2 separate regions of the Homo sapiens genome follow, and region 2 is reported to be linked to region 1. The links are microRNA targets in miRTarBase. Many come from high-throughput screens and were not tested one by one. Region 1 holds a microRNA gene; the other region holds the end of a gene's coding sequence.

Region 1 (5,194 bases):
CGTCTAGGCCTGGATGTGTCCCCTGCAGGCTCTGATCTCTGTGGGGTTGGAGTTCTGTCCCTCACACTCGACACCTTGCGTCTAGGCCTGGATGTGTCCCCTGCAGGCTCTGATCTCTGTGGGGTTGGAGTTCTGTCCCTCACACTCGACACCTTGCGTCTAGGCCTGGATGTGTCCCCTGCAGGCTCTGATCTCTGTGGGGTTGGAGTTCTGTCCCTCACACTCGACACCTTGCGTCTAGGCCTGGATGTGTCCCCTGCAGGCTCTGATCTCTGTGGGGTTGGAGTTCTGTCCCTCACACTCGACACCTTGCGTCTAGGCCTGGATGTGTCCCCTGCAGGCTCTGATCTCTGTGGGGTTGGAGTTCTGTCCCTCACACTCAACGCCTTGCGTCTAGGCCTGGATGTGTCCCCTGCAGGCTCTGATCTCTGTGAGGTTGCGGTTCTGTCCCTCACACTCAACACCTTGCCTCTAGGCCTGGATGTGTCCACAGGTGCTCAGTGAATTCTGGCTGAATGAGGGAATCCATCCAGAAGCCCACGATGGTGAAAATTTCTGCAAGTAGAACCCCAGGTAGAATATGGCTGCTGGGGGTGAGTACATGAGGTACCCATCTGGCCTCTCAAGCCCCTACATTGTAAAGTACTATGAAGGCAGAGTGTGGCGGAGGTGCTCTTGGAGATCAGAGTGTGCATGAGGTAGAGGAATGCTCGCACTGACCTGCCCTGCATGGGTGCAAAGGACACATAATCTGGCACATCTACTGGATGGATTCCAGGGAGGAGGCAGAGACAGGTGGAATACCCACTGCTCAAGTCCACAGTGGGGCTCAGCAGTGCAGAAACTGGACTCAAACCCCAGGTCTACCACCTTAATCAGTCCTGCCCTCATCTGGGACTCAGTCTCCCCATCTGTAAGCCATGGATGCTGTGCCGCTGGCCTTCCAGGGCCACTAACCACTATCAGGCTCTTGTCGTGCTGGGCCCCAAGCACAGTGGGTGACTTCCATCGCCTCATTTCAGCTTCGACCTGCTCTCAGAAGGAGGTACTGCTGTGATTCTGTTGCAGATGGGGAAACTGAAATCCAGCTGAGGGAAGGTGTTGAGTAACTGGTACAGGATCACAGTTAGCTAGTGGCCCAGTTGGGATTTCAGCTCCAGAATGTTCTCCTCCAGGTCCACAGGCAGTCTCCCCTGCTCCCCCAGCCATCTGCTTGGCCCTGTCTCCCCCTTCCTTCCTCTATCCAGAAACATCACACCACCTGCTTTTACCAGAATACACCAGTGCAAATCACACTGCCAGGCCTTTGACCCCACCATTCCCTCTGCATTTTACCCTTTCTCTGAGCTTTGGCCAACCCTGTGGGAGGATGGGGCCACTCCCTCCTTCCTCTCCCTGTCTCTGTGACATCTGCTTGGGCATAGACCAACCTCTGTTCCAGAGAGGCCTGTTTCTCCCAGAGCTGAACAAATTATCCTAACAGTTGCAGTTACCATTTATTTAATCTGTGCCAGGCACCATTTCAGGTGCTGCACGGGTATTGCCTTGTATCTCGCAACACCACTAAGGTGGGCGTTTTTATTACAATCCCCATTTTACCCATGAGTAAACTGAGGCACAAGGGAGTCACATGGCCAGGAAGAGCAGCAGCGGTTGGATCTACTGAGCCTTGATGATGCAGCTGTATCCAGACTCCACATTCCTCCTGCACACTGCACGTTTCCTCCCAGTGTGTGGTATGCCCACCTCCTATCTGTTGCCAATAGGCCAGGCCAAGCCCATCTGAGACGAGCCACCACTCCCTGCTCTGGATTGTCCCAAGGCTGGGTCTTCCCTGCATCCCACTGGACCTCCCTGGGTTGGGATGTTTGTGTGGGTCTCTGTGAGTAACAGTGCCCAGCTGAGCCTGGGGCAGGTCTGACCCACCCAAATCCTGGAGGCCAGCCCAGGGTGGGCATAGAGAAGGTACACAGGGACATCTGGTATTTCCGTCACCCCCAACAGCCACCCCAGGCACCCAGGCCCTCGTCTGGTTTCCTCTGAGAAACAGCCAGTTGCTCACTGTTAGTCCCTGGGATTTGGTTGGCCAAACACAAACATAAGATCCCAACCAGGCCAGTGGGGGCTCAGACCAGGGACCTCTTATTGTTATTACCCCGGGGTTTCTACATTGGTAAGACATAAGCCTGGGGTTCCTGGCTATCTTTAACCCCTTTGGAAAGAGAACCTAAAATAAGAATGAAGCTAACACAGAAAAAACCAACTGAGAAACAGAACAAGAGAGGAAGAAGAGAGTTCTGATGCTGTCAACAGATCTTCTGGATATAGCCGTATCTGCTGCCTCCTTACCCTTCTTTGCTTCAGCCCATTTCAGCTCGCTTTTGGTCACCTGCAACCAAAACACACCTGTCTACAACAGTGTGTGAGAGTTACGGTAAAGTACAAATGTGAGAATGGGTGCATGAGCAACCCCAAACCAGAGCCCTGTGCTCCCATGTTCCTGTCCAGGGTGTATCTCTGGTGTGCCGTGAAGCTGCCCACGGCGCCCCTTTACCTCTCTTGTCCAGCACCTGAGTCAGATCCTCCACCAGCACAGCGGCTTCCTCTCCGCTCTTGGGACTCTGGGCTCCCACCCAGGCTTGGATCTCTGGGGGCAGCGCACCCAGGAACTGCTCCAGCACCAGCAGCTCCAGTATCTGCTCCTTGGAGTGCGCCTCGGGCTGCAGCCACTGACAGCACAGCGCTCGGAGGTGGGCCAGGGCCTCGTGTGGACCAGATGCCTCCTCATAGCGGAAGTGCCGGAAGCGCAGGCGTGCAGCCTCAGAGTGAGCAATGTGGTCATGGCTGGATTCTCCGCCCTGGGAGAGGCTGGCTTCCTCTTCCTCCTCCACCTTCACTTGAAGGAAGCTGTCCTCTTCCCACGGCACTGGGCTCAGGGAGTGCTTGGGGATGGCCATCGGGCAGCAGTGCTCAGTGAGACACAGGATGCCGGAGCCTTGGAACTGGGCCTGCAGGAATGTCAGAGCTTCAGCATCACATGGAACCTGGGCCCTGCCTCATGCCTACAGAGCAGGGAAAACACAGGCTTGTGGCCCGTGAGATGTGAAAGACTCTCACAAAGACATAGACAATCCTCATAATTAGGACAGCACCCACTTGGTGCTGAGCACTGTTCTAAGCTACTACTGCTTGCATGTAGACTCATTTAAAACTTACAACAAACACCATCCTGGCTAACATGGTGAAACCCCGTCTCTACTAAAAATACAAAACAAATTAGCCAGACGTGGTGGCGGGCACCTGTGGTCCCAGCTACTCAGGAGGCTGAGGCAGGAGAATGGCGTGAACCCGGGAGGCGGAGCTTGCAGTGAGCCGAGACTACGCCACTGCACTCCAGCCTGCGCAACAGAACAAGACTCTGTCTCAAAACAAAAACAAACAAACAAAAAACTTACAACAAACTCAGGAGGTGGGACTTTCTACCTATTTTATGGATGGAAAAACAGACACTCAGGAGGAAAATATTTGCCCAAAGTCCCTCAGCTAGTGAAGGGTTAACAGAGAGCTAAGCTACAAACCCACGCAAACCTACAGCCAGCCTGTTTAAGGCGTGCTCCTCCCCAACAGAGCCAAGTCTTTCTCCCTCTGTTCCCCAGGTAGCCACATGGTCATTCTCTCACTTTACTTGCTAATTATTTTGTAGTGTTTGAGATTGATACATAATTGACTTTCGCCTTTCCTCTTTTCTAATGCACATATTTAAGGCTATAAATTTCTCTCTAAACACAGCTTTAGCTATACATCACAAGTTTGATATGTTGTATCTTCATTATCATTTAGTTAAAAATATTTTCTAATTTCTGTTACAATTTCTACCTTACTCATTAATTATTTTTTAAAATTTATTTTATTTTTTTGAGACGGAGTCTCCCTCTGTCGCCCAGGCTGGAGGGCAGTGACGCTATCTCGGCTCACTGCAACTCCGCCTCCCGGGTTCAAGCAATCCTCCTGCCTCAGCCTCCCAAGTAGCTGGAACTACAGGTGTGCACCACCATGTGAGGCTAATTTTTGTATTTTTAGTGGAGACGGGGTTTTGCCATGTTGGCGGGGCTGGTCTCGAACTCCTGACCTCAAGCGATCTGCCTGCCTCGGCCCCACAGAGTGCTGGGATTACAAGCATGAGTCACCATGCCCAGTCCCATTGGTTATTTATTTAAAACTCTCCTGCTTCATTGCCAAACAACTGGGGGTTTTCTAGTTGTCTTTTTATTACTGATGTCTAGATTAAGTCTGTTGTGGTCAGAAAACATGCTACAATGGATTTCGATCATTTAAAATTTGCTGAAACTTGGTTTGTGACCCAGTGTATGGTTAATTTTGGTTAATGTTCCATGAATACTTGAAAATAATGCAAAGCTGTCTTAGCTATGACACCAAAAGCATAAGTAACAAAAGAAAAAATAAATAAACTGGACTTTATCAAAATTAAAAGCTTTTGTGATTTGAAGGACCACATCAAGAAAGTAAAAAAGCAGCCCACAGAGTGGGAGAAAATATTTGCAAATCATATATTTGATAAGGGACCTGTATCTAGAACAACTCCATAGTAAAAAGATGAATAATACAATTTTAAAATGAGCAAAGAATGTGACTAGACATTTCTCCAAGGAAGATACACAAATGGGCAATAAATACATGAAAAGATGCTTAACATCACTAGCTACCAGGGAACTGCAAATGAAAACCACAATGAGATAGCACTTCACACCTGCTGGGATGCCTATAATCAGATAACATGTGTAGGCAAGGATATGGAGAAACTGTAATCCTCATATGCTGCTGCTGGGAATGTAAGATGGGATAGCCACTGTGGGAAGTACAGTCTGGGAGTTCCTCAAAAGCTTAAACAGAGTTACCCCATGACCTAGCAATTCTACTCCTACGTATAGACCCAAGAGAAATGAGTATATGTCCTCACAAAACTTTATACATAAATGTGCATAACAGCATTACTCATAACAGCAAAAAAGGAGAAACAATCCAAATGTCCACCTGATGAATGGATAAAATGCTGTATATACCTATAATGGAACACTATTCACCATAAACAGAAATGAAGTACTGATTAATGCTACAACATGGATGAACCTTGAAAACATGATGCTAAGTAAAAGAAGAAAGACACGGCAGGGCA
Region 2 (3,000 bases), not on the chromosome of region 1:
ACAAAGAAGGGCATCTCCAGGGTAGGGGTGCAATGTCTAGAGGGGGAGAATGAATTCAGGGTCCATGTGGTCTGGGAGGCTGGAGAGGAGATAAGCCACAAAGCCACATGGAGAAATAGGGGCTCACTGTCCTCGTCTCTCCTTCTTGCACTCTCTCTTTCACTCTCTCCCTGCTGCCCACTCCATCTCTGTCCTCCAACCCCACAGGTGAAGATCTGGTTCCAAAACCGGCGGGCAAAGGAGCGCAAAGTGAACAAGAAGAAACAGCAGCAGCAACAGCCCCCACAGCCGCCGATGGCCCACGACATCACGGCCACCCCAGCCGGGCCATCCCTGGGGGGCCTGTGTCCCAGCAACACCAGCCTCCTGGCCACCTCCTCTCCAATGCCTGTGAAAGAGGAGTTTCTGCCATAGCCCCATGCCCAGCCTGTGCGCCGGGGGACCTGGGGACTCGGGTGCTGGGAGTGTGGCTCCTGTGGGCCCAGGAGGTCTGGTCCGAGTCTCAGCCCTGACCTTCTGGGACATGGTGGACAGTCACCTATCCACCCTCTGCATCCCCTTGGCCCATCTGTGCAGTAAGCCTGTTGGATAAAGACCTTCCAGCTCCTGTGTTCTAGACCTCTGGGGGATAAGGGAGTCCAGGGTGGATGATCTCAATCTCCCGTGGGCATCTCAAGCCCCAAATGGTTGGGGGAGGGGCCTAGACAAGGCTCCAGGCCCCACCTCCTCCTCCATACGTTCAGAGGTGCAGCTGGAGGCTGCTGTGGGGACCACACTGATCCTGGAGAAAAGGGATGGAGCTGAAAAAGATGGAATGCTTGCAGAGCATGACCTGAGGAGGGAGGAACGTGGTCAACTCACACCTGCCTCTTCCTGCAGCCTCACTTCTACCTGCCCCCATCATAAGGGCACTGAGCCCTTCCCAGGCTGGATACTAAGCACAAAGCCCATAGCACTGGGCTCTGATGGCTGCTCCACTGGGTTACAGAATCACAGCCCTCATGATCATTCTCAGTGAGGGCTCTGGATTGAGAGGGAGGCCCTGGGAGGAGAGAAGGGGGCAGAGTCTTCCCTACCAGGTTTCTACACCCCCGCCAGGCTGCCCATCAGGGCCCAGGGAGCCCCCAGAGGACTTTATTCGGACCAAGCAGAGCTCACAGCTGGACAGGTGTTGTATATAGAGTGGAATCTCTTGGATGCAGCTTCAAGAATAAATTTTTCTTCTCTTTTCAAAAATGTATAAAAATCATTATACATAGCATTAAAGAAACATTTTTGAGAAGTACAAATCATCCTCACCTTCCCCAGCAATTGTGTATTCCTTTCCCGTTTGTTTAGGCCCACAACAAGGTCACCTTTAAAATACATTTGAAAGATCAAAACAGAACACCATTCGTTTAGGTCTATGAGACTACGTAAAAATGTGAGTCCATTTTGTAAGCAGATTCATCAGACTCAACATATCAGTCTTTTGAATTTTTCAGATATGTTCAGTTCAGGTTTTTCTTTCAATAATGACATTCATTGCTCACCCCATGTGCTACGCGTGGCTGGGCCTGGGAAGCACACAGTCCTTGTCCCCTAGACTGGAGAAGGGGTGCGAGATCATGTCTTGGGAAGATGTGGAGGGGGAAGGTTACAGAGAAGGGCATCTCCAGGGTAGGAGAGCAAGATCTAGAGGGGGAGAATGCATTCAGAGTCCATGTGGTCTGGGCAGCTGGAGCAGGAGAGAAGCCACAAAGCCCCCCTCAGGGTCTGACTTCAGGGGTCCTGAATTGCTCTGCAGAAGTCCCCAGTCCAGTGGGGAAGACTGCTATGCACACAGATGACACTAATATAACAGGATAAGGGCCAATCTGAGCGTCAGGGGAGCCAGGGCATCCAACGAGAGCAGAGCACATGCCTAGCTTATCCTGGAAGGCTTCCTGGAGTAGGTAATGTTTGAACTGAGACTGAAAAGGACTAGCGAGTATGGATCAGGCCAAGAAGGGAATAAAGGAGAAAAGGAACTTGAGCAATATGGACTGAAAGTATAATTTTTTTTGAACTCGGGAGTCTACTACCCGGGGCCTTCTCTCCCCGGGGGCTCTGGTGCCAGCTGCCTGCCCCTCTGTTTACTGTTCTGGGAGGTGGCCAGGCCATAAAAAGTGTGCACAGCCTGCCTGACATCGCCCTTTGCTCCCATGATAACAGTGCACAAGGTGGATCCTGGCCTGGCACAGGCCCCTGAAGTGCAGCAGGCACTTCTCTCTCTCCTCCTACCAGTGGCCTGGGAGACAGCGGGCATTCATTAGTAATGGTGGACACCTGAGGCTTGGGAAAGAACCAGGGTTCCAAGAGTAGAGGGGGAGGGGCTGGTGAAAAGGCGGCTGGCCCGGACTGAATAGAGTTTTCTGATCTTCAAAAAAATATGCTCTGTGACCCTAGGGTAACTGCTTCCCCTCTTTGGGCCCGCATTGCCCCATCTGTAAACTTGGGGAAGTTGTCTACCAGAAAGAAATAACTCTGGTCAAGTAAGTTTGGGAAATCCTGCTGAAGCCACTTCTCTGATAGAGTCACAGTGGGCCATTAGCACATCAAAGTCTCTGACAAGCCCCACAGCAAAGAAACCCCTTGAATTTTCTTTCATCTGGCCTTCCCCGTGCTTTGCTACCTAGGAGGCCCCTACTCACACCTCCGAGCATCCCACTGAACTCCACACACTCTGCAGTGCTGGGATGTTCAGGCTGGAGGGCCTCACCTTCTCTGTGTCTCAGTATTTAGCAGCAGGTTTTGTCGTCAAATGGCCTGGATTTCAGCGTGACTACTTCCAAACTGCAAGACTTCAGGCAAGTTACTTAGCTTCTTGGAGCCTCGGCCTCCGCATGTGTCAAATGGAAATAAAATAGTCTAACTGAGCTTAGAATTGTGTTTCGCTCAGGGCCCAGCACATAAGAAGTGCCTGTTTTTGAGCCACCTGCTCACGGGGCTGCTGCTGCATCCCAGTGTGAGAGGCTGGCA

The links. Region 1 holds the annotated microRNA hsa-miR-6806-3p (UGAAGCUCUGACAUUCCUGCAG, at 3,009-3,030, opposite strand). A microRNA usually pairs through its seed, bases 2 to 8, with sites in the 3' UTR of a target mRNA and lowers its output. Matches are read on the target gene's strand: a 7mer-m8 pairs with bases 2 to 8, a 7mer-A1 pairs with bases 2 to 7 and ends in A, and an 8mer does both.
Region 2: miRTarBase lists CDX1 as a target of hsa-miR-6806-3p. Seed matches in the 3' UTR shown: 7mer-A1 at 1,201-1,207.

Annotation. Positions count from the first base shown.
Region 1 is chr19:58,332,566-58,337,759 of GRCh38, reverse strand. MIR6806 (microRNA 6806) reads right to left here and starts at 3,072; the gene lies at 3,009-3,072. ZSCAN22 (zinc finger and SCAN domain containing 22) reads right to left here. Exons shown (of 3, transcript NM_181846.3): 2 at 2,555-3,008. The coding sequence starts at 2,957.
Region 2 is chr5:150,183,267-150,186,266 of GRCh38, forward strand. It overlaps CDX1 (caudal type homeobox 1), which reads left to right. Exons shown (of 3, transcript NM_001804.3): 3 at 208-1,292. The coding sequence ends at 414. Among named protein-coding and RNA genes, the nearest start is that of SLC6A7, 5.3 kb to the right of the region's middle. RefSeq lists an enhancer at 2,624-3,000.